Regions from separate parts of the Homo sapiens genome. Here regions 1, 3 and 4 are each linked to region 2. Evidence: fine-mapped expression QTL. A gene starts in region 2. Each other region holds a variant in brackets. All regions are shown on one strand. Distances are from middle to middle.

Region 1 (5,148 bases), 130 kb after region 2:
GCTATTATCCTCATTTTGTAGATGAACAAACTGAGTAGCTTTAAGTGGTTAAGCATCTTGCCTGAAGTCAGTCCCCTAGGTTTAAGTCCCACCTTGATCTTCTGCTAGTTATGTGATTTCAGCCAAACTCCAACTTTGCTGTGCTTTAGTATCTTAATATAATGGAGATAAAACAAGTCTTCCCTGTCATTCACTGAAGGTTACAAGTATAACATGTTATACAGAATATTAAAGTGTCAAGTGTATATAGAAGTACCTTGCTTTCTCCCAGCTAGATTACAATCACTGGTGGACAGAGACCAGGTCACATGCTTACTTTAAATCCCGGAAGGTAAGACTATATTGCATATGTGGAATGGTTATGCAAAGGAACAAAAACTGTCGGTTTAGTCATCTTTTTGACACATTTACAGAACAGCCACCTCTGTGCCACAATGCTACTGGGACGCAGAGGTGAAGAGGTGCCACCACCGTCAAGAGGCCTTGGAGAAAGACCATGGCACATTAAAGGTAAAGTGAATAAAATGAACGTGGTCTGTAAAGGCAGGGCTTGCTATGGGAGCAGTGAGAACTAACATGACTCCATTACAGCTTCACAGTGGCAGCGAGGGAGACAGCAGATAAAGCTCAGAAAACAGGCTGGACACAGACTGTAGAAAAGCTTTCAAAGAGTTTCAGAAGAGACAGCAAACTGAAGGAGCTAATTGAGAGAGTAAGAGAAGGAAGGAGAGTAAAAGGGCAGGGGGGAGGAGGTCTCTGAGTGAATTATAAACACACTTCAAAGTTCTGCTCACGGCTGGCTGTCTATCCCAATCTTATTTTATTTTGTTTTGCTTTTCCTCTCAGTCTATTCCCCTCTTCTTCTCGCATTATTTCAAAATGGCTTTCCCCCCTTTTTAATGTCTTTGAACTGCCAAGGATAGCAAGAAGCCTGCTTTTAGGGGATCCTCAGGAATATTTCACCTTCTGTTTTCTCATCTATAAGGTAATTATAACACATCCTAGGACTATCACACAAATACAAAAGAAATAACAGAACTTTTCAGCAAATGGTGCTGGGAAAACTGGATATCCACATGTAAAAAAACAGCTGGACCCTTATACCATATACAAAAATTAACTCAAAATGGACCAAAGACCTAAATATAAGAATGAAAATGATAAACCTCTCAGAAGAAAACATAGAAAAAATGTTTCATGACAATGGATTTGACAATGTTTTCTTGGATGTGACACCAAAGGTATAGGTAGCAAAACAAAAAATAGATAAATTGGACATCAAAATTAAAACTTTAGTGAATCAAAGGACACAATCAACCAAGTGAAAAGACAATCCACTGAATGGAAGAAAATATTTGCAAATCATATATCTGGTAAAGGATTTGTGATGGTTAATATTAGGTGTCAACTTGATTGGATTGAAGGATGCCTAGATGGCTGGCGAAGTACTGTTTCTGGGTTTATCTGTGAAGGTGCTGCCAGAGGAGGTTGACATTTGAGTCAGTGTACTGAGAAAGGAAGAGTCACCCTTAATATGGTTGGGCACCATCCTACTGCCTGTCAGCATGGCCAGAAGAAAGCAAGCGGAAGAAGGTGGAATAAGCTTGCTTGCTGAGGCTTCTGGCTTCCTTCTCCCCACTCCCCCTCCCCCTGCCATATTGGATGCTTCCTCCCGCTCCTCCTGCCCTTGGACATCAGACTTCAGGTTCTTTGGCCTGACACTGGGACTTGCACGGGGGGCCAGGGGGTGGGTGTCCTGCCTTTGGGACTGACTTAAAGGCTGCACTGTTGTTTTCCCTGGTTTTGAGGCTTTCAGACCCAAACTGAGCCACTACCGGCTTCTCTCTTCCCCAGCTTCCAGATGGCCTATTGTGGGACTTTGCATTATAACTGTGTGAGCCAATTCTTTACTTTCATAATATACATATTATGAAATATGTATAAACTCCCTTTCATATATACATATTATTAGTTCTGTCCCTCTGGAGAACACTGACTAGTACAGGATTATAAGGGGTTAATAACTAGAATATATAAAGAACTACAATAACAACAAAAACAAACAACTTAACTAAAAATTGACAAAGGACTTGAATAGACATCTCTCCAAAGAAGGGATACAAAATGACCAAGAAGCACATGAAAAGATGCTCATGTCACTAATCATTGGGGAAATGCAAATCAAAACAATGAAATACTACCTTGCACCTATTAATATGGCTACTTTAAAAAATAGAAATAAGTGTTGGTGAGAATATGGAGAAACTGGAACCCTTGTGCAATGTTGGTGGGGATATAAAATAGTGCAGCTGCTATAGAAGAGAGTAAGGCAATTCCTCAAAAAATTGAAAATAGAATTACCATATGATCCAGTAATTCTACTTTTGGATACAGACCCCAAAAAACTGAAAGCAGGAACACAAACGGAATATTTTTACACCTATGTTCA[T/C]TGCAGCATTAGTCAGAAGAGCCAAAAGGTGGAAGCTACCCACATGTCACTGGTGGATGAATGGAGATATAAAACACAGTACATGCATACAATGGAATACTATTCAGCCTTAAAAAGGAAGGAAATTCTGACACATGCTACAGCAGGGATGAACCTTAAGGGCATTAAGCTAAGTGAAATAAGCAGTTAGAAAATACCATGTGATTCCACTTATATGACAAAGTTACATGGCAAGCCTAGAGTAGCCAGATTCAGAGAGACAAAAAATACAACAGTGGTTATTAGGCCACCGGAGGAATAGGGCATCAATGTCTAATGGGTATAGTTTCAGTTTGGGAAGCTGAAAGGAGTTTTGGAGATGGATGGTGGTAATGGCTGCACAGCAATATGAATGCATTTAATGTCACTGAACTATACACTTAAAAGTGATTACGATGGGCCGGGCACAGTGGCTCACGCCTGTAATCCCAGCACTTTGGGAGCCAAGGTGGACAGATCGTAAGTTAAGAGATTGAGACCATTCTGGCCAACATGGTGATACCCCATCTCTACTAAAAATACAAAAATTAGCTGGGTGTGGTGGCGGGCAGCTGTAGTCCCAGCCACTCGGGAGGCTGAATCGGGATAATCGCTTGAACCTGGGAGGCGGAGGTTGCAGTGAGCTGAGATGGCGCCACTGCACTCCAGCCTGGCAACAGTGCGAGACTCCGTCTCAAAAAAAAAAAAAAAAAAAAAAAGATGATTATGATGGTAAACTTTATGTTATGTGTATTTTATCACAATCAAAAGAAGAAATAATTTTTTTAAAAAGTAACATATATTAAGCATTCAGCAAAGAACTTGGCAACGAATCTTTGCTCCTTCCTTTCCTCCTGATGCAATCTTTTGTTTCAAGGTTCTTTTTAAGTTACCTAAGGAGATCAGCCCTAAACAGCCCTGCCATTATATCTGGCTGATCATCCCAGGGTGAATTCTTTTCTTTTCTGGGCTTTGGTTTTGTCAACCATTAAAAAACAAGAAAAAGAAGAAGAAGATTAAACTACATTACATTTCCTTTTAACTCTAAAACTAAGAACACATTGAAGGTAAAAGAACTTACAAACAACCTGGCAGGAAGGAAGAAAAAGATATTCTGGAGCATTTATTATGTGTCAAATATTGTACTAAGGGCTGGGGATCCACAAATATGAATATACAAAAGGAAGATAATTCCTGATTTAGGGGAAAATAATAATAGAAATCACAATCTTGTATATAGTTGCTACTAGAGGGTTACAGGAACAGAACTGATTACCTACCAGGGAAAATCCATCAGAGAGTTGATAATTGAGGGAGACTTCTTTTTGAGGAGGGAGATGAGGGATCAGGAGTGAATCTGGTGGAACAGAGGCAGAAGGGCTATCAGGAGGAGGGACCAGCACAAGCACCTTACAGAGTGCATGCACTAGTCAGGGTCCTGGAACAGTCCAGAGAAGCGGTGGGAGCCAGTCAGGAAAGACATTTTGGGATCTGATTGTTAAATGCCAAAAAAAAAAAAAAAAAGCTGTGAAAAGGAGCTTGACTTTCATCCTGAAGGCAGTGGCGGACCACTGACAGTTTTAACTGGAGAGGGATAGGATCCAGTGTGCATAGTAGAAATATCACTTTGGCAACAGCATAGATGAGGATAGATTAAGGGAAACAGGAAGCCCAGACAAAACAGGATAAGGGCCTGAACAACGGCAGTGGCAGTAGGGAAGGAGAGGAAAGAAAGATCCCTTTGCCTCAAGCAGCTCCCACAGATAAAGGCAGGAATGGTACGCAAACTCCAGAAGGTTGGCTCTTGCACACCAGGGACCTTGAACCACATTCTTATTTCTAAACGGTTTCTGACGAATTCTGAATGTCCCCAGGTCCAGGGCAATCACTTAAAGGGAGGAAACTGGCATAAAAGTTAATCTGTTTCAGCTGCTATGTTATCCACCACCCCTTCTCACCAGAAATAATCGGAGGCAGCACTGGAAAAAGGAGCATCTGGATGCAGTAAAGACCCATCCCTTCCCGCACTGGAGCTGTTGGCTCATCCCTGGAAATCACAACAATCAAGAATGGAGAATCGTTCTTTTCATCCCTTCTCACAGCATTATCCCAGCAACCTCATCCCCTAACAATGGTGTGGTCTGTGTTATGTTTTCCCTCCATCACTGCCCCTCCCTGCTGCTGCACAACAGAGGTGCTGTGCCCCAGAGGCCGCTGAGGTTGCAGGCCTCTCAGCCTCTGAAACAAGGCTGTGAGCGTTTGGATGCACCCTCAGAAGGAGCTGCATAAATAATCAGATGAAAAACACCAAACCTTAACTAAAAATGAATTTTTTTTCCTCCATTTTTTCCTCCATTAAACCAGCTAAAAGATTTTCATGACAATTCCCTGTAGTGTGATAAAACAGACACCCTTGCATGTTGCTCTGAACTATTTGTTAGTATTATGTGTTTGGAAAATAATCTGGCAGTATTTCAAATGCCTTAAAAATGTTCATCCCTTTGTGCCCAATAATTCTCATTTCTGGCATCTGACTTTAAGGTAATAATTCAAAGGAAAGAAAAAGATGTATGTATGAAGATATATATTGCAGTACTAGTTGGGGAAAAAAGTGGTAGAGTTTCTGTTCTTTACAGTTTTCTCCCATGTTTTCCTCTCTAACTTACCCTTAGGCTTGGTAA
Region 2 (5,148 bases):
ATTCTCCTGCCTCAGCCTCCTGAGTAGCTGGGATTTCAGGTGCGTGCCACCATGCCCGGCTAATTTTTGTATTTTTAGTAGAGACGGGGTTTCACCACGTTGGCCAGGCTGGTCTCAAGCTCCTGACCTCAAATGATCCACCCACCTCAGCCTCCCAAAGTGCTGGGATTACAGGCGTGAGCCACCGCGCCCGGCCAGGTCTGCCTATCTTCTGTGCTGTGATTCTGCCTGGAAGAAGATGGCTGTTCAGGCCTTGTTTTTCCTGCCTCATCATGAACCCAGAATCTCTGTAACTCGGCAGGAAAGAAACTCCTGTCATGACTCACTGTGAATGTTGACAAAGAGAGGCCACTCCTGGGCCTCAGAAATGTCAAGGATGGGCAGAAAGAACTGGAGACAGGCCAGGCTCAGTGGCTCATGCCTGTAATCCCAGCACTTGGAAGGCCCAGGTGGGAGGATCGCTTGAGTTCAGGAGTTTGAGACCACCTGGACAACATAATGAGACCTCGTTTCTATAGAGAAAAAAAAAAATTAGCTGGGCATGGTAACACGTGCTTGCAGTCCCAGCTGCACAGGCTGAGGTAGGAGGATCGCTTGAGCCTGGGAGGTCAGGCTGCAGCAAGCCGAGATCACGCCACTGCACTCCAGCTTGGGCAACAGAGTAAGACCCTGTCTCAAAAAAAAAAAAAAAAAAAAAAAAAAAAAAAAAAAAGAAAAGAACTGGAGAGGCTGTGTGGGGTAGGGGCAGACCATGCATGGTATTCGGCATTACCTGGGTTTGCATTTGAATCATCCCCTGCCACTTACTAGCTGTGCAGCCCTGGGCACGTTCCTGGGCAGATGATGATGATCATAACAACAACAAACACTACAACGGCAATAATAATGGCTAACGTTTATTGAGCAGTTACTACCGTGCTAGGCACTCTATACATGTTAATCTCTTTCAATCTCACAGATTAAGTAGATACTATTATATACCTACTTTACAGACCAACCATACTGGGCCCTCTTCGACTTCTGCAATTTGGCATCTGCCATCCCCTCTGCCTGGACCTTGAAGACAAATCCCATGCATCGGCCAGGTCTCTCAGCTGGAATTCATTCCTTCTCCTCTGCATCTGCGGAGAATTTTAGTCTAACCCCTTACCACAGCCAACTTTACTTAAGTAGATGGATGCCTGGCTCCCTTGCTGGGGCTGGGGGTGCCCCTTTCTATATCCACAGAAGCACGTAGAATAGGGGAAGAGGAAGAAATTTCTCTCCTGTTTAGTCAGATCCATTTTCCCCACCTGGATTTTCAAAACTTTTTAATTTTGAAATGCTCTGTTCAATTTTCAATCTGGAATCTAAAGGGATGTGACAAGGCCGAGGTGATTACTTGGGAGTAAATGCAAGGAGAGTTTCCACTGCGTAAGGGAATGGACAGCACGTGGCTGGGTAAATTTCAAAAAAGACAATGCTCAGAGTGAGTACTGTGTTTTCCAGTAAGTGGGAGACTTCCCCACCTTACCCCACCGGAGAAAGGACTCTTTGCCTTGAAGCCCCTAGGACGACTACCCTTTCTTCACCTCCTCTTCCTGACCACCCCACATCAAAGAGCTGCGTCTATAATTCTGTCTTGCCCAGTCCATATCTCTAAGAAATCCGAAGGCTGCTCTATTACCATCACAACCCATAGGGAGGAGAGAAAAGGTGCTTCCTAGACACAGGGACCCCAGAATGAGCTGCGCAAAAGGCAGGAGGAGAGAAAGGTGGGCTGGAAGAAGGAGACCACGGAATCTGGCACGGCAAGGTATTCTTTCATCTGGCGTAGACCTCCAACAACCACTACCATCCCCCAGCCCCTTCCAGAACTTTCCTTCACCTTCTCGGCTCACTCTCACGCTTCACCTTGTGCTTTTCCTCCGGCACCAGCACCCCATTTCAAACCGCTCTCTTCCTATGTCTCCTCCAAACAGTAATTTATAAACACCGTGCTTTCAAATCCATCTCATTTCATCCTCACAGTACTATAGGAGGGCTGCCTTACAGGCTGTCATTCGGAAGGGTTGGGGGGACTGGTCCTGCCAGACAATTTGCGAAGGTCGGGGCATCAAAACTTTTCTTTCCTGCCTCCCACGCCAAGCTAAACCTCTGCCTCCCCGAGTGCAGGGAGAAAAGCAAGGTCTTTGAAGTAAGGAGTCCTGAGTGGTTTTAGGCAAGTCCCTTCGCTTTTCTGAGCCTCACATTCCTCACCTGTCAACCGCTATAGTGACGCCTCTACTTTTCAGGGCGTGGGAGGTCAATGAGATCACTGGTGTGCCGCACTGAACTCGGGGATGGACTCTTTATTTCCAGTCAGTAAAGGGAGGTGTTCTATGCATCACAGGCTTTTGCCCACGCCGCCACAGCGCGGCCGGCCCAGGGCTCTCCAGAGCGGGGCAAGTTCCCTGTCATCTGTGTCTCCGCCCTTCCTTCCCCAATCTCACCCAGGCTGGCCTCATCGGCTTGTTCCGCACCCACTCCCCAGCCCTACAGCCCCCACTCCGACCTGACAAGTGCCCCACCCCCACCTAGAGATCCCGCCTCTCCTTGCCCCACCCACCAAGGACTCCTCCCACAGTCCCGACCCTCATTATCCGGGCTTTTCCGACTATCACCATCCGCCCTTGCTCTCCCAACAGCCCCGCCCCTCTAAGAGCTCTGCCCACTTCGGCTCACCTCGCTCCGAAACGCGCCCCCTCCCCCGCACCACAGGCGATGCCATCCCCATTTCACAGATGGGAATGGCGAGGCTGGGATAGATTAGTCTCATGGTAAGACAGGTGCTCAGTGGGCCCACGTACCCTCGCCGGTAGTCCCCGAGCCCCGCGACCCCGGCCGTGCCGCACCCACCTCCTGCCCTCGCTCTGCAGCCTCTCCCTCCGCGAGCGGCCAGCGCAGCTTTGCGAGGGGGGCGGAGGGTAGGAGCCCAGCCCAGGGGCGTGGCGGTCCGGGGTCTGTGCGCTGCCTTCCGGGACTGGTAGTTCTCTCTGGGCTCCTCGCAGCTCGGCGCGTCGAGAGCGAACTCCATCTCCCAGGAGGCATTGCAGCGAGTTGCTCTGCGCCCCGCCTCGTCCCCGCCGGTGTCCGGCCGGCTGGCCTTAAAGGGGACGCGGTCAGAGTGGCAGCTCGCGGGGTGGCCCCCGCTCCGGCTCCGCCCCATTTCACGCACCTCGCCCCTCCCCATGCTTCATCCCGCAGCCCCGGGGCCGCGCCGCAGAGTCGGGCTTCCTGGATACATAGAGGCTTGTGCCAGGCGGGGTGGGAAGACTGGATTTTGCAGTGGAAGCAGCATCTCTTCCGTCTGGGACCTGGCTGAGGGCGTCCCCACCCTGGGGGGAGCAGAGGACCAGCCCTGACCTAGCCGGGCCCAGCCTCGTCCTGCCCGGCCTGAGCGCCCCGCCCAGCAGCCGGCTCTGGCCCACCGGGGTCCGGGAGGTAAGGGGGTTGGGGGCGTGTGACTGTCTTTGGGGGGCGGTGTCTGCACCCTGGCCTTTCGAGAACCCTGGACTTGCGAGCCCAGGGCTGGGAGTCGGGAGATCTGGGTGCATCCTGGGCCTCCTGGGCCTCACTGTGTGACCTTGGGCGAGTAGCTATTCCTCTCTGGGCATTAATCCCCTCCCTTCATCAATTGTATGTCGAAGTGATCCTGCTCCCTCCCCTTTCAGGTAAGAGGGCATTCGCACCCAGTACCTAGTACATTCGCTTGCTGGCTTTTCGTGGGGCCCTCCAGCTCAAGCGTGGGCTGGGCGCGGGTGCACTGGAGGGAGGGAGGTGGCACAAACTGGGGGGCCCGAGGCCACCATTGCTTGGAATGGGCTTTTCCTATTCTCAGTGTGCTGGGCCCTGGGATACCCTCCCCAACCCCCTCTTACGGCCCTGGCCCTTGCAAACCGGAGACCCTGATGTGTCAGCTTGGTGCCCTTCCTTCCAGAAAGCTTGGGGTGGAGTGCGGCCCTCACAGGTTTGTGAGGGGTGGCCCCGCAGGGATAGGTGTGTGTGGTGGGTTCCTGAGGAGGAATAGCTGCTCCTGCTTTCTTCCCTTCTCTCTCCTCCTTATCCTTTGAGGAAGAGCAGCTGCTTTTTACCAGTGAAACCCTTTTTTCTTTTTCTTTCCAGGAGACAGTTTGGTGGCCCAGACATGGGCCTCCCGGAGTAGGGTGAAGCACTTCTTCCCAGGGTTGCCTTGGGTAGAAGTTCAGTTAAAAAATACCTAGAGAGATGCTGCCATTCAGACACCTGAGGGGCCAGAGATGGAGGGCACCACCTGGTGTCGGGAGGGGCAGCCTGGTACCCCCAAGGAAGCTCTGGCTCCCAGGGGAGTCAAAGGAGGGAGGCTGGCTTCGAGGGTCAGAGAGGGGAGGAAATGTGCTCCTCAGCTCTTAGGTGCTGAGCAGAGGCTGGGAGGGGCTGCTCTGACCTGGAGCAGGGAGAGGTTGAGTAACACCATGAAGCCTTCTTCTCAGGTCCTAGGAGATTCTGTGAGCTTTTGACCTGAAGGCTAACCAGGAACAGATTTTTGTTTTGTTTTGTTTTGTTTTTGTTTTGTGCTTTTTCTTTTGCTTTGGTTGTTTGAACAATTTCTAGAATGGCTAAAGCCTCAGTCCAGTCCAGTGACCTCTGTAGGGGCTTTCTTGACTGATGTTTAAGATTTTCAGGGTTTTTGATATGCAAGACCAGGCCTGGGCAAAGGAGGGGGTGGTGACTGGACCAAAGGTTAGGCCAGTTTCTGGAAGGTACTTTTGTGGTTACATCTTTGGTTTTCTCTCATCTTGCTGTCACATGTCTCTCATGAGTTGCTTGACGCACCTTCACGGACACCTCAGTCCTTGGTTCTGTACTGGGCACTGGGCTCAGAGACGGGGATTGGACCTCTGCCAAGGGAGGTCCCAGCCTGGTGGGAGACAGAGACATGGATTCCAGTTATGCTGCAGAGGGATGAGAATAGCTAAGAGGGCCTTGGAGGCCAGAACTTTAGACACTTGAATTGTGGAGGGAAAAGGAAAGGCTTCCCAGAGGAGAGGGCATGTGAGCTGGGCATTGAAGGGTGAGTCAGAATTTTCCAGGAGAGAAGAGGGAAAAGCCCTTTTTCAGTAGAGGGGACATTGTGCAAAGTAGCAGTCA
Region 3 (5,148 bases), 86 kb before region 2:
GCTACGCTTCCCTCCCCCTTTGGCAAGATCCCCATCTTTGTCTCTGCAATAACAGACCAAAAAGAAGTCTTAGAAAATGGAGTAGACGGAAGAGATGGAATAACTGGATTCCATCTCAGAATGCCATTGACCTTGGAGTCTCTCTGATCTTAGGGGATAATGGGTAAATAAAATGTATGAATTCTGCCTGAGGGCTGAAAAAAAATAGAAATAAAATAAAATGTGTGAAAGTTCCTACTGTTGACTAGATAAACGTTGGCTGAATCTGAATGTGTGGCAGATATTACACAAATTGGGGTCCTGGATAAAAAGCGTATATGAAGTACTCTTAAGGAAGGGAAAGGATAAGAACCAGACTGCAAAAATCACTTCAGTTCCTGCGCATGATGAAAGGTTTAAGTGGCTGCCTTATAAAAACTGCAGTGCTTGCTGTTAGAATAAATGAGCTGCACGAGATATCCTTAAATCAATGTAAAGTAGCTGTGGTTTGTAGTTTCTGCTGCCTGGCCAAACCAGTACCTTAACTACTCCCCTTGGCTTTGTGAGTATTGTCACTGTATAATTTCAAACAAAAAAAATCTCGAACAAGGTGTACAGAATGGGGACAGTACACCATCTGCCTGTGTACACGCCAAGAGGAAAATGTAGGAGCTGGTAACGATCCAGAAGTTTTTTTGTGCATACAAAATAGCATTTCATTTATATTTCCTTAGCACAGGATTCTAATTATGCTTTATATCCTCACAATGGTTAGCATAGGCTACAAATAATTATGCGGTTAATCAGATTCCCTGTTTGGCTTGAGCAAGCACAGCAGTCTGAACGATCTCAGACAATTTTAATAGGGAAAGGTGAGTTTTTTTCAGATGTGTTTCAGTGCTTATGGAGGGCCAGTGGCTTCTCACCATGGTGACAATCCGGTTGCTAGGCTGGGCAAGACCAAGTGTGGAAGAATGGTGCTCTGAACAGTTCTACTGAAACAAATGGCTGATGCCACTGGCAACTTTCTTCAAGTTCTGGTTAATTTCCCATGAAATAATTGCTTGGCACATATCTAAGCAGTTCCTTTATTCATTGTTTCTTTGTCTTGCCAATAGCAGAGTCAATCAATACTGAAACATACAGTTTGAACCAAGCATATGTGATGCCTACTGCACAATACACTGAGGTTAGTAACAAAGGGATGAAGGGGTACTTCACCTTCCAGGAGGTGAAAGGGAATACAAATTCACAGCAGACTTCCAGAGGCCCCAGGCCAAGCAGGTAGAAAGTTTCCATCCAATTAAAAAGAGGTTTTTCTTTTCTGAAGGAAAAAAGAGAGAAAAGTCTGATTTTAGATGAGTCATCCTGGTTTAGCAAACATTTCCTAGCTAAAGCTTCCCCATCTGCACTGTCTTGCTGTCAATTATTATAGCCAAGGCCAGAGTCAAGAGTATATTAAATTTCACATTTAGGGCCAAGTGCAGAGGCTCATGCCTGTAATCCCAGCACTTTGGGAGGCCAAGGCAGGTGGATCACCTGAGGTCAGGAGTTCTAGACTAACCTGGCCAACATGGAGAAACCCCATCTCTACTAAAAATACAAAAATTAGCCGACCAGGGTGGCACAGGCCTGTAATTCCAGCTACTTGGGAGGCTGAGGCAGGAGAACTGCTTTAACTGGGTTGCAGTGAGTCGATATGGCACCACTGCACTCTAGCCTGGGCGACAGAGTGAGACTCTGTCTCAAAAAATAAATAAAAATAAAAAATAAGTTTCACATTTAGAAAAAAATGATAATTATATACGTTATATTATCTCAACAATCTAAATTTACTCCACCATTGACCTATGCTGTTATTTAGCTCAAGCTGCTCAGAGAGAATTAGTTCTGCATTTGAAAGAGGTAAAGGGGTTGGGTGCTGTGACATTGGAATAAGAACATGAGAAACAATATAGAATTGAAGATTTAAAAAAAATTTTCTTTTTGAGATGGAGCGTTGCTCTGTCACCCAGACTGGAGTGCAGTGGTGCAATCTCAGCTTACTGCAACCTCCACCTCCTGGGTTCAAGCGATTCTCTTGCCTCAGCCTCCCAAGTAGCTGGGATTACAGGCGCCTGCCACCATGCCCAGCTAATTTTTGTATTTTCTATAGAGACAAG[G/T]TTTCACCAGATTTTTAAAATATTTTTTATTTTGGTAAAATATATATAACATGAAATTTGCTATTTGTTTAACCATTTTTAAGTATACAGTTTGATGGTATTAAGTAGATCAATAATATGCGCCCATCGCCACTATCCACCTTCAAAATATTTTCGTGACCCCAAACAGAAACTCTGGAACCATTAACAATAACTTCCCATCCCCCTGTTCCCTCAACCTCTAATCTACTTTCTGTCTCTATGTTTGTTTATTCTAGAATTTCCTATCAGTGGAACGATATGATATTTGTTCTATTCTCTCGTTTCTTTCACTTAGCATGTTTTCAAGATTCATTCATGTAGCATGTATTGGAACTTCATTCTTTTCTTTGGCTGAATAATCCACTATATGTATATATCACACTTTATCATGTATTTGTTGATGGACATTGGGTTGTTTCCATCTTTTAGCTAGTATGAATAATGCTACAATGAATACTGATGTACAAGTATCTGTTGAGTCCCTGTTTCCATTCTTTTGGGTATAGGGGTGGAATTGCTGGGTCACATGGCTATAACTGCATTTTAACATAGTTAATTATATAAGTTTTTATGGACACAGTTATGAACCATAAGCAAGCTTTAAAAAATTACAGTTGGCCGGGCATGGTGGCTCACACCTGTAATGCCAGCACTTTGGGAGGCCAAGGACGGTGGATCACCTGAGGTCAGGAGTTTGAGACCAGCCTGACCAACATGGAGAAACCCATCTCTACTAAAAATACAAAATCAGCTGGGTGTGGTGGCGCATGCTTGTAATCCTAGCTGCTAGGGAGGCTGAGGCAGGAGAATCGCTTGAACCTGGGAGGCGGAGGTTTCAGTTAGCTGAGATCGTGCCATTGCACTCCAGCCTGGGCAACAAGGGTGAAACTCCGTCTCAAAAAAAAAAAAAAAAAATTATAGTTAACATTACATACAGTTTAGAAGAGAAAAAGTTTCCATCTATAATTCTGTAGTAAAATTTGTACATAGTTGGGTGCGGTGGCTCAACGCCTGTAATCCCAGCACTTTGGGAGGCCGAGGTGGGTGGATCACCTGAGGTTGGGAGTTCAAGACCAGCCTGACCAACACAGAGAAACCCCATCTCTAATAAAAATACAAAATTAGCCGGGCACAGCAGCTCACGCCTGTACTTCCAGCACTATGGGAGGCCAAGGTAAGTGGATCACCTGACGTCAGGAGCTCGAGAGCAGCCTGGCCAACATGGTGAAACCCCACCTCTACTAAAAATATAAAAAATTAGCCAGGTGTGGTAGTGATGCATACCTATAATCTCAGCTACTCAGGAGGCTGAGGCTGGAGAATCGCTTGAACCCAGGAGGCGGAAGTTGCAGTGAGTGGAGATCGCGCCACTGCACTCCAGCCTGGGCGACAAGAGTGAAACTCCGTCTCCAAAAAAAAAAAAATTAGCTGGGCATGGTGGCGCATGCCTGTAATCCCAGTAACTTGGGAGGCTGAGGCAGGAGAATAGCTTGAACCCGGTAGGCGGAGGGTGTGGTGAGCCGAGATCACGCCATTGCCCTCCAGCCTGGGCAACAAGAGCAAAACTCCGTCTCAAAAAAACGAACAAAAAAAATTTGTACATAGTATCTTTTAGTTTTTTCCATATCTATCTGTATTTAATAGTTTTATTCATAAAGCATATTTTACATTCAGTTTTTGAGTTTTCATATAGGATTTTAATTTAAGTAGTCCTCCTCAAATACTCCCCCAAACTAAAGACACAAACTATGTTGTCTCGACTGAGTGATGGGATTGAGTGATTTCTCCCTCTATTTACCAATTTTTTTTGTAATGTTGTCATATTACTGTTATAACTTAAAAATAAAATTTAAAGAGCTTATTTGACCACTTAGGTGTAAACATTTCACAAGAGTAAGTATAATTTTAAACATTTTTTTGATTACCTGAATAAAGTCTTCAGTGACGAAATACTATATATGGTGAATAGTAACATGAGTAAGATTTTAATGGGAAGTTCTGTTAAAAGAATAGAAAAAAAAAGATAATTTAGCTGATGACAGAAAGACTTATGATGCTGAAAGTAATATAAGCACACTGACACAGCTATATAGTGCTAATAATACTTTTTAAGTTTAATTTTACATTTTTGTGACATCTAGAGATGCTGAGAATTACAGGAAATTGGAGGTTTTATTTAAGAGGATGAATGATCTCTATCCAAGAGATTTTAGAGTTGTTTAAATTAGATGTATTAATCTGTGGGCCTCGATGAAAAGGTTGTGATAGTCAAATATATTTTTCTCAGAAGACGCTGTTTACCTGGTGCAGTGAAGAGCAGAGGAAAGAGGGAATAATGTCCTGTTGTGGTCAGAATCAGAAAAATCGAAGCGTCTCCTGCTTTTCCCACAGACAAAAGGCTAAAAATAAAAATAATTTCTTAAAACAACAACTGTTATTACACTTGCAAATAGCTTAAATAAACTGCATCTCCTATTACATTAGAACTGGCTGAGGCATAGAAGAACATGCTGATTTTGGCACAAGTTCAATTTAGTTGAGAATATTAATTTTTTAGTAGGAAATTTTAAGCAATCAATAGCATGTATCAAACTGAATCAGGGGTATCGTAAAAGAATCTTGCTTCTGGCCGGGGACAGTGGCTCATGCCTTTAATCCCAGCACTTTGGGAGGCCGAGGCGGGAGGATCACCTGAGGTCAGGAATTCAAGAGCAGCCTGGCCAACATGGTGAAACCCTGTCTCTGCTAAAAATACAAAAATTAGCTGGGCATGGTGGCGGGTGCTTGTAATCCCAGCTACTCAGGAGGCTGAGGCAGGAGAATTGCTTGAACCTGGGAGGCAGAGGATGCAGTGAGCCGAGATCGCGCCACTGCACTCCAGCCTGGGCAACAGAGCGAGACTCTGTCTCAAAAAAAAAAAAAAAAGAATCTTGCTTCCCTGAGTAATTGCCTTCTCCAAAGACAGGAATGTTGTGGGATTGGGAGC
Region 4 (5,144 bases), 26 kb after region 2:
TCTGGCTTGCGTGAGATGGTATCTCATTGTGGTTTTGATTTCTCTAATGGTCAGTGATGTTGAATTTTTCTTTCGTACGTTTGTTGGCCACATGAATGAATGTCTTTTGAGAAGTGTCTGTTCATGTCCTTTGCCCACTTTTTAATGGGGTTGTTTTTTTCTTGGACATTTAAGTTCCTTGTAGACTCTGGATATCGGACTTAGGTCAGATGGGTAGTTTGCAAAAATTTTTTTTCATTCTGTAGGTTGTGTCTACTCTGATGATAGTTCCTTGTACTCCGCATAAGCTCTTTAGTTTAAGTGGATCCCATTTGTCATTGTTTGCTTTTGTTGCAATTGCTTTTGATGTTTCCATCATTAAATCTTTGCCTATGCCTATGTCCTGAATGGTATTTCCTAGATTTTCTTCTAGGGGTTTAATACCTTTGGGTTTTACATTTAAGTCTTTAATCCATCGAGTGAATTTTTTGTATAAGGTATAAGGAGGGGGTCGAATGTCAACATTCTGCCTATGGCTAGCCAGTTCTTCCAGCAACATTTATTAAACAGGGAATCTTTTACCCATTGCTTGTTTTTGTCAGGTTTGTTGAAGATGGTTGTAGGTGTGGAGTCTTATTTCTGAGTGAGTTCTCTATTCTGTTCCATTGGTCTATGTGTCTGTTTTTATACCAGTACTATACTACAAGGCTACAGTAAGCAAAACAGCATAGTTTGAAGTCAGGTAGGCATTAGGCTTCCACTTTTGTTCTTTTTGCTTAGGATGGTCTTGGCTATATGGACTTTTTGGCTCCGTATGAATTTTAAAATAGTTTTTTCTAATTCTGTGAATGTGAATGGTAGTTTAACGGGAATAGCATTGAATCTGTTAATTACATTGGGCAGTATGGCCATTTTCATGCTATTGAGTCTTCCTATCTATCTGTGAGCATGGAATGTTTTTCCATTTGTGTCCTCTCCTTCACTTCCCTTGTTAGCTGTATTCCTAGGTATTTTATTCTGTTTGTAGCAGTTGTGAATGGGAGTTTGTTCATGATTTGGCTCCCTGCTTCTTGTTGGTGTATAGGAATGCTAGCAATTTTTGCACATTGGTTTTTGTATGTATCATCTTGAGAGTTGCTGAAGTTGCTTAACAGCTTAAGAAGCTCCTGGGATGAGATAATGACATGATTCTGTATCATCTAGAAAACCCCATTAATGCAGTTAATAAGTGTGCTGAAGGAGGAGTACAGGGACCAGTTGAGTCTGAGGGGGAGGAGGATGCTTCGGGTGTGGGGGGAGGGGGTCCCACTACCCACGTGAGCCTCCTGTGTGACTCCCTAGAGTCAAGGGTGGCACTGGCATACTGAGCAGCTGGAACAGCATGGGCTTTGACCAGTGGGATGGGTGCCAGTGCCTGGAGTTTGTGTTTTGTGCGGGGGAATACAGCAACTGGTGTGGGGACACCAGACCGGGTGTCACCAACATCAACTCCTTCTTCCCCAAGGACACAGCCTATGTGCTGTTTTACCAGCAGCAGCCCAGGGAGGGGCCTGAGGCTGAGTCAGGCTCTCAGGGACAGCTTCTGCCATGCTGTCCAGATGGAGGCAGGGTGGCGGGTAAGGATCGCCATGAGGCTGACGTCCTGGTAGCAGGAGGATGGGCTTTCTCATAGGCAGAGCCCATTCCTCGTGATCATGAGGCCTGCGGACAGGTTCCCGTGTGGTGTGATATGACCCTCGAAGTCCTCAGACCTCTCGGTACCACATTAGGCCCTTGTCAGCTAGTCAGTCACACCCTAGTATCAGCTGGCTCAGGGACTAGAGTTTTTATTGAGAGGAGGGGGTCTTTTGAAGTCTTTTGAAGGTGTCCACCCCGGATATCCTGCCACTGAGCTGCAATGTCTCTGTGTGTCCAGGCCCTGGGGACCTAGAGGAAACATTGAAAGGTGTTGTGCTGGGTAGACTCACTCTGGCTTCAGGGTGTGAATTCTAAGTCTAAGTCTCCTCTCATCTGTGTTCCCAGGAGCAGGAGAAGGAGGCCCGGAGCAGGGCGGCCTACATCTCTGCACTCCCCACATCTCCGCACTGGGGGAGGGGCTTTGATGAAGACAAGGATGAGGATGAAGGCTCTCCAGGGGGCTGCAATCCTGCAGGTGGCAATGGTGGTGACTTCCACAGACTGGTCTTCTAATGTGAACCTGCTGCCAACCTGACCCCTTCCCTCCAGGAGCCAGGTAGGGCCTGAGGGAAGCTGTGGAGGCAGGCCCTACCAAGAGGAAGGATGGTACAGCTCATGGCACCTTAGTCCTCAGCCTGATGAAGGGTACACAGAGATTCTCTCAGATATGGAAGTAAGACCTAAGTCCCTTTCATTGGGGATCAGTCCCATTAAAACTTTACACCCAAGTGTCCTGGTTAACTTGAAGCAGCCGAGATGGGCACACACGGGTCTTTGCCTCCCCCTCCTTCCCTAGCAGGCTCCCCATGCGGGAAGATCTGATGATGTTCAGGAAACAGGCTAGACCTCAGCTCCAATGTTTTGACATCAAGTACTATTTTCCTTCCGACTGCTGTACGGTATAAAGCACAGCAGGATCCAAGCCTTGCACAAAGGGGTGGGGGGGGCAGTGTCTCCTCTGGCTGTCCTGTTTGTTTGTTTCTCATATGGGGGTGGGGGGTACCTGCACTGTCTGTACCTTTCTGAGAAGAACAGAGACCGAGACCTGCCCCCTTACCAAGCGCCACTGCATGGTTTTGGGGGGGGGGGCGGGGGGCTAGCTTCTCACAGCAGGAGGCCTTTGCCCCCACAGCCCCTCCACGCCTGCCTCAGGGCCTGAGAAGCCACCACTTGTATCCCCCTTGTGGTTAGAGTCCTGATTTTACTGCAAAGGTGTTCATGTTCCTTGTGAAGTGTGGGCTCTTAGGAAGCCTGTGGGCTCCTCTGAGCAGTTGGCCTTTGTAGCTGCAACAGCAGCCACCTGCAGGTTGGGTGAAGTGCCCTGACACTGCTGTAGCCCCCTTCTAACTTCTAACCGAAGACAAGACAGACACCCATGTT[C/CTTAAATAAATAAA]ATAAATAAATAAAAGTAAGCCTAAGCAAGAGATTGTTCTTCCTTGGACTCAGGGGCTGTGATGGCCACTGGGTTTTGCTCACGGGGTCTGGGGAGGCCAGGACTCAGCCTGCCCCCCAGTGACGTGTGAGATGCCACAGGGAGCCAAGAGCCCTCTACTGAATCTACTGAAGTGGGGTGTAAGTAAACGTGTGGACTGACTGACTTACTTACCTTACTGAGGGCTGGGTGATGCTGCCCGTGGAGAGGATGCACCTGGGAGGCAGCTCTCAAGCCTTTACCTACCTCCTTCCCCAGGGGCTGCCTGCTGTGATGGTGGTGTGGAGTTTGGGCCCAATGTCACAGACCCTCAAGATGTCACATCTAAGTGACCTGTGAAAGCAGCAGACAGACACGCCCAGAACCCATCTCTAGACGCCTAAGAAAGCTGGATGGGTAAATGCTAGTATGATTTCCACTTTACAACAGACGCTGAGGTAGAGAGCATTTGTTCTTATTCACAGCCAAGAAAAATACCCAATTATTTCCAAATAAAGCAAAAATTGGAACAGACTGGAGTGAGAACGGGTTCCACCACCAAGCCCCTCAAGACAAGATGGACACGGCAGCTGGTTCTGGGGTGCATTTCTAGTGGACTTTATTGTCCTGCTCCAACACCACAGTAGAAAGGGACCTGCAAGCTCCAAGCCTGTACCATGTGTCACCACAGCAAAAACATGACCCACTTGAACACACTCCTGTCCCACCCACCGGATAAATATGTTACAATTTAAAAAAAAGAATACAACAGAATAAATTAATAACTTAAGTGATTAGGCACCAACAGTGATTTGAAAATTAAATGTCAATTTTAAATGGTAACAAGACAAGAACTCAAGACTGGGCTTCCACTAGCCCATTTTCTCTTCCTGACAAACAGTGACAATTCTGCGTGAAATAATTCTAGATTTCAAGACACAAGTAGCCAACAAATACACAACACATGCCACCATAAATCACATGACAGCCTGGATCTCTTGGGGACCCCCTCGGCAGGTACCCCATTGTGGTCCCAGGTCCTAAACAGCAGGGCTAGTCCCAGAAAGACGACCCCCCACGGAAGGGCTTTAGCGCTCCTGAGACCAGTCTGGCTTCCCCTGCATTTTATGAAGGCCCAGATGGGGAAGGAAGAACTCTGGAAATGGGATAGGGGTGCTGGGCCGAGATGTCCCCATGGGAGAAGGGGCCAGAGGGAGGATGAGCTGAGCCCATGCTCCAGTAACTTCAGAATGGTTGTGCTTTTGTCACAGGAATGGGGCATACTTTGTTAACTTCTACATTGGAAACCACTAAAGTCAAGCTAGGAGGGGACTGGGGATAGGTACTGCCCACCCCAATCCCCCAGAAAGAAGTTACAGAGGAGGGAGTCTCCCCTTCAAGCAGCTGAGCACCAGCTGTGGATGGGACCTCAGCGCAGCTAATCCAACCTCCCATTCCACAGACAGGCAGATCAAGGACTTAAGGAGACACCATCTCCCTATTTCTCATCGTTCTCACTTGACTTAACCTTGCAGAAGTGGAGCTGGAAGTGGGTGAAGAAGGCTCCTTGGAGAGCCCCAGGCAGGGGGCCTGTGTGAAGCAGTGCTGAGTGGGAAGGTATCCCCTTTCCGTAGGCTCAGTCCTCTCCAGGCCCCCAGGAGAGGTGGACTTTGACCCATGGATAGGCCAAAGGACCAGTTTTTTCAACTGAGTTGACTCCTTTGTTGGAGGAGGTAGTGGGTGGAGGGTGGGGATATGCTAGATACGGCTGGTAGTTTGGGGCCTGTGAGCCAGAGCTTTGCTTTCAAAAGGTCAATTTCACCTCTCATCCTTCCATCTCTACCCCTACACTTGCACCCGAGGGATTTTGGTAGTTACCAGAATAGGGGGCTGGAAGGAAGCCTCCTGGTAGTTACCAGAATAGGGGGCTGGAAGGAAGCCTCCTGGGAGATTCGATTTGAACACCTCAGTCGCTCTCCGAAGATTCCAGCCAGGTCCACTCACATCATGGCACACTCAGAACATGCTCACATGTTTATGGGAGGCTGCAATAGTCTGGGCCCACTTGTGGCTGCTGCGGGTACAGGGAA

The links. PIP is the estimated chance that this variant, and not a neighbour inherited with it, causes the effect.
Region 1: its variant is fine-mapped to the expression of USP35 in whole blood (TOPMed, PIP 0.96).
Region 3: its variant is fine-mapped to the expression of USP35 in whole blood (TOPMed, PIP above 0.99).
Region 4: its variant is fine-mapped to the expression of USP35 in cerebellar hemisphere (GTEx, PIP above 0.99). The same link has a PIP of 0.9 or more in cerebellum, nucleus accumbens, prefrontal cortex, testis, thyroid and whole blood.

Annotation. Positions count from the first base shown.
Region 1 is chr11:78,314,396-78,319,543 of GRCh38, forward strand. All of the region lies in intron 1 of GAB2 (GRB2 associated binding protein 2), which reads right to left. It overlaps LOC105369402 (a long non-coding RNA gene), which reads left to right. Exons shown (of 3, transcript XR_950343.4): 2 at 414-510; 3 at 4,429-5,148. Among named protein-coding and RNA genes, the nearest start is that of GAB2, 100 kb to the right of the region's middle. The variant T/C (reference allele first, on the strand shown) is at 2,450.
Region 2 is chr11:78,185,696-78,190,843 of GRCh38, forward strand. USP35 (ubiquitin specific peptidase 35) reads left to right here and starts at 3,224. Exons shown (of 11, transcript NM_020798.4): 1 at 3,224-3,462. It overlaps KCTD21 (potassium channel tetramerization domain containing 21), which reads right to left and starts at 2,931. Exons shown (of 2, transcript NM_001029859.3): 1 at 2,878-2,931. RefSeq lists silencers at 2,648-2,987, 3,418-3,577.
Region 3 is chr11:78,099,893-78,105,040 of GRCh38, forward strand. ALG8 (ALG8 alpha-1,3-glucosyltransferase) reads right to left here. Exons shown (of 13, transcript NM_024079.5): 11 at 4,464-4,561; 12 at 4,088-4,160; 13 at 1,054-1,303. The coding sequence ends at 1,072. Among named protein-coding and RNA genes, the nearest start is that of NDUFC2-KCTD14, 23 kb to the left of the region's middle. RefSeq lists a silencer at 5,011-5,148. The variant G/T (reference allele first, on the strand shown) is at 2,142.
Region 4 is chr11:78,211,645-78,216,788 of GRCh38, forward strand. It overlaps USP35 (ubiquitin specific peptidase 35), which reads left to right. Exons shown (of 11, transcript NM_020798.4): 11 at 2,002-3,588. The coding sequence ends at 2,169. It overlaps GAB2 (GRB2 associated binding protein 2), which reads right to left. Exons shown (of 10, transcript NM_080491.3): 10 at 3,649-5,144. Among named protein-coding and RNA genes, the nearest start is that of USP35, 25 kb to the left of the region's middle. The variant C/CTTAAATAAATAAA (reference allele first, on the strand shown) is at 3,037.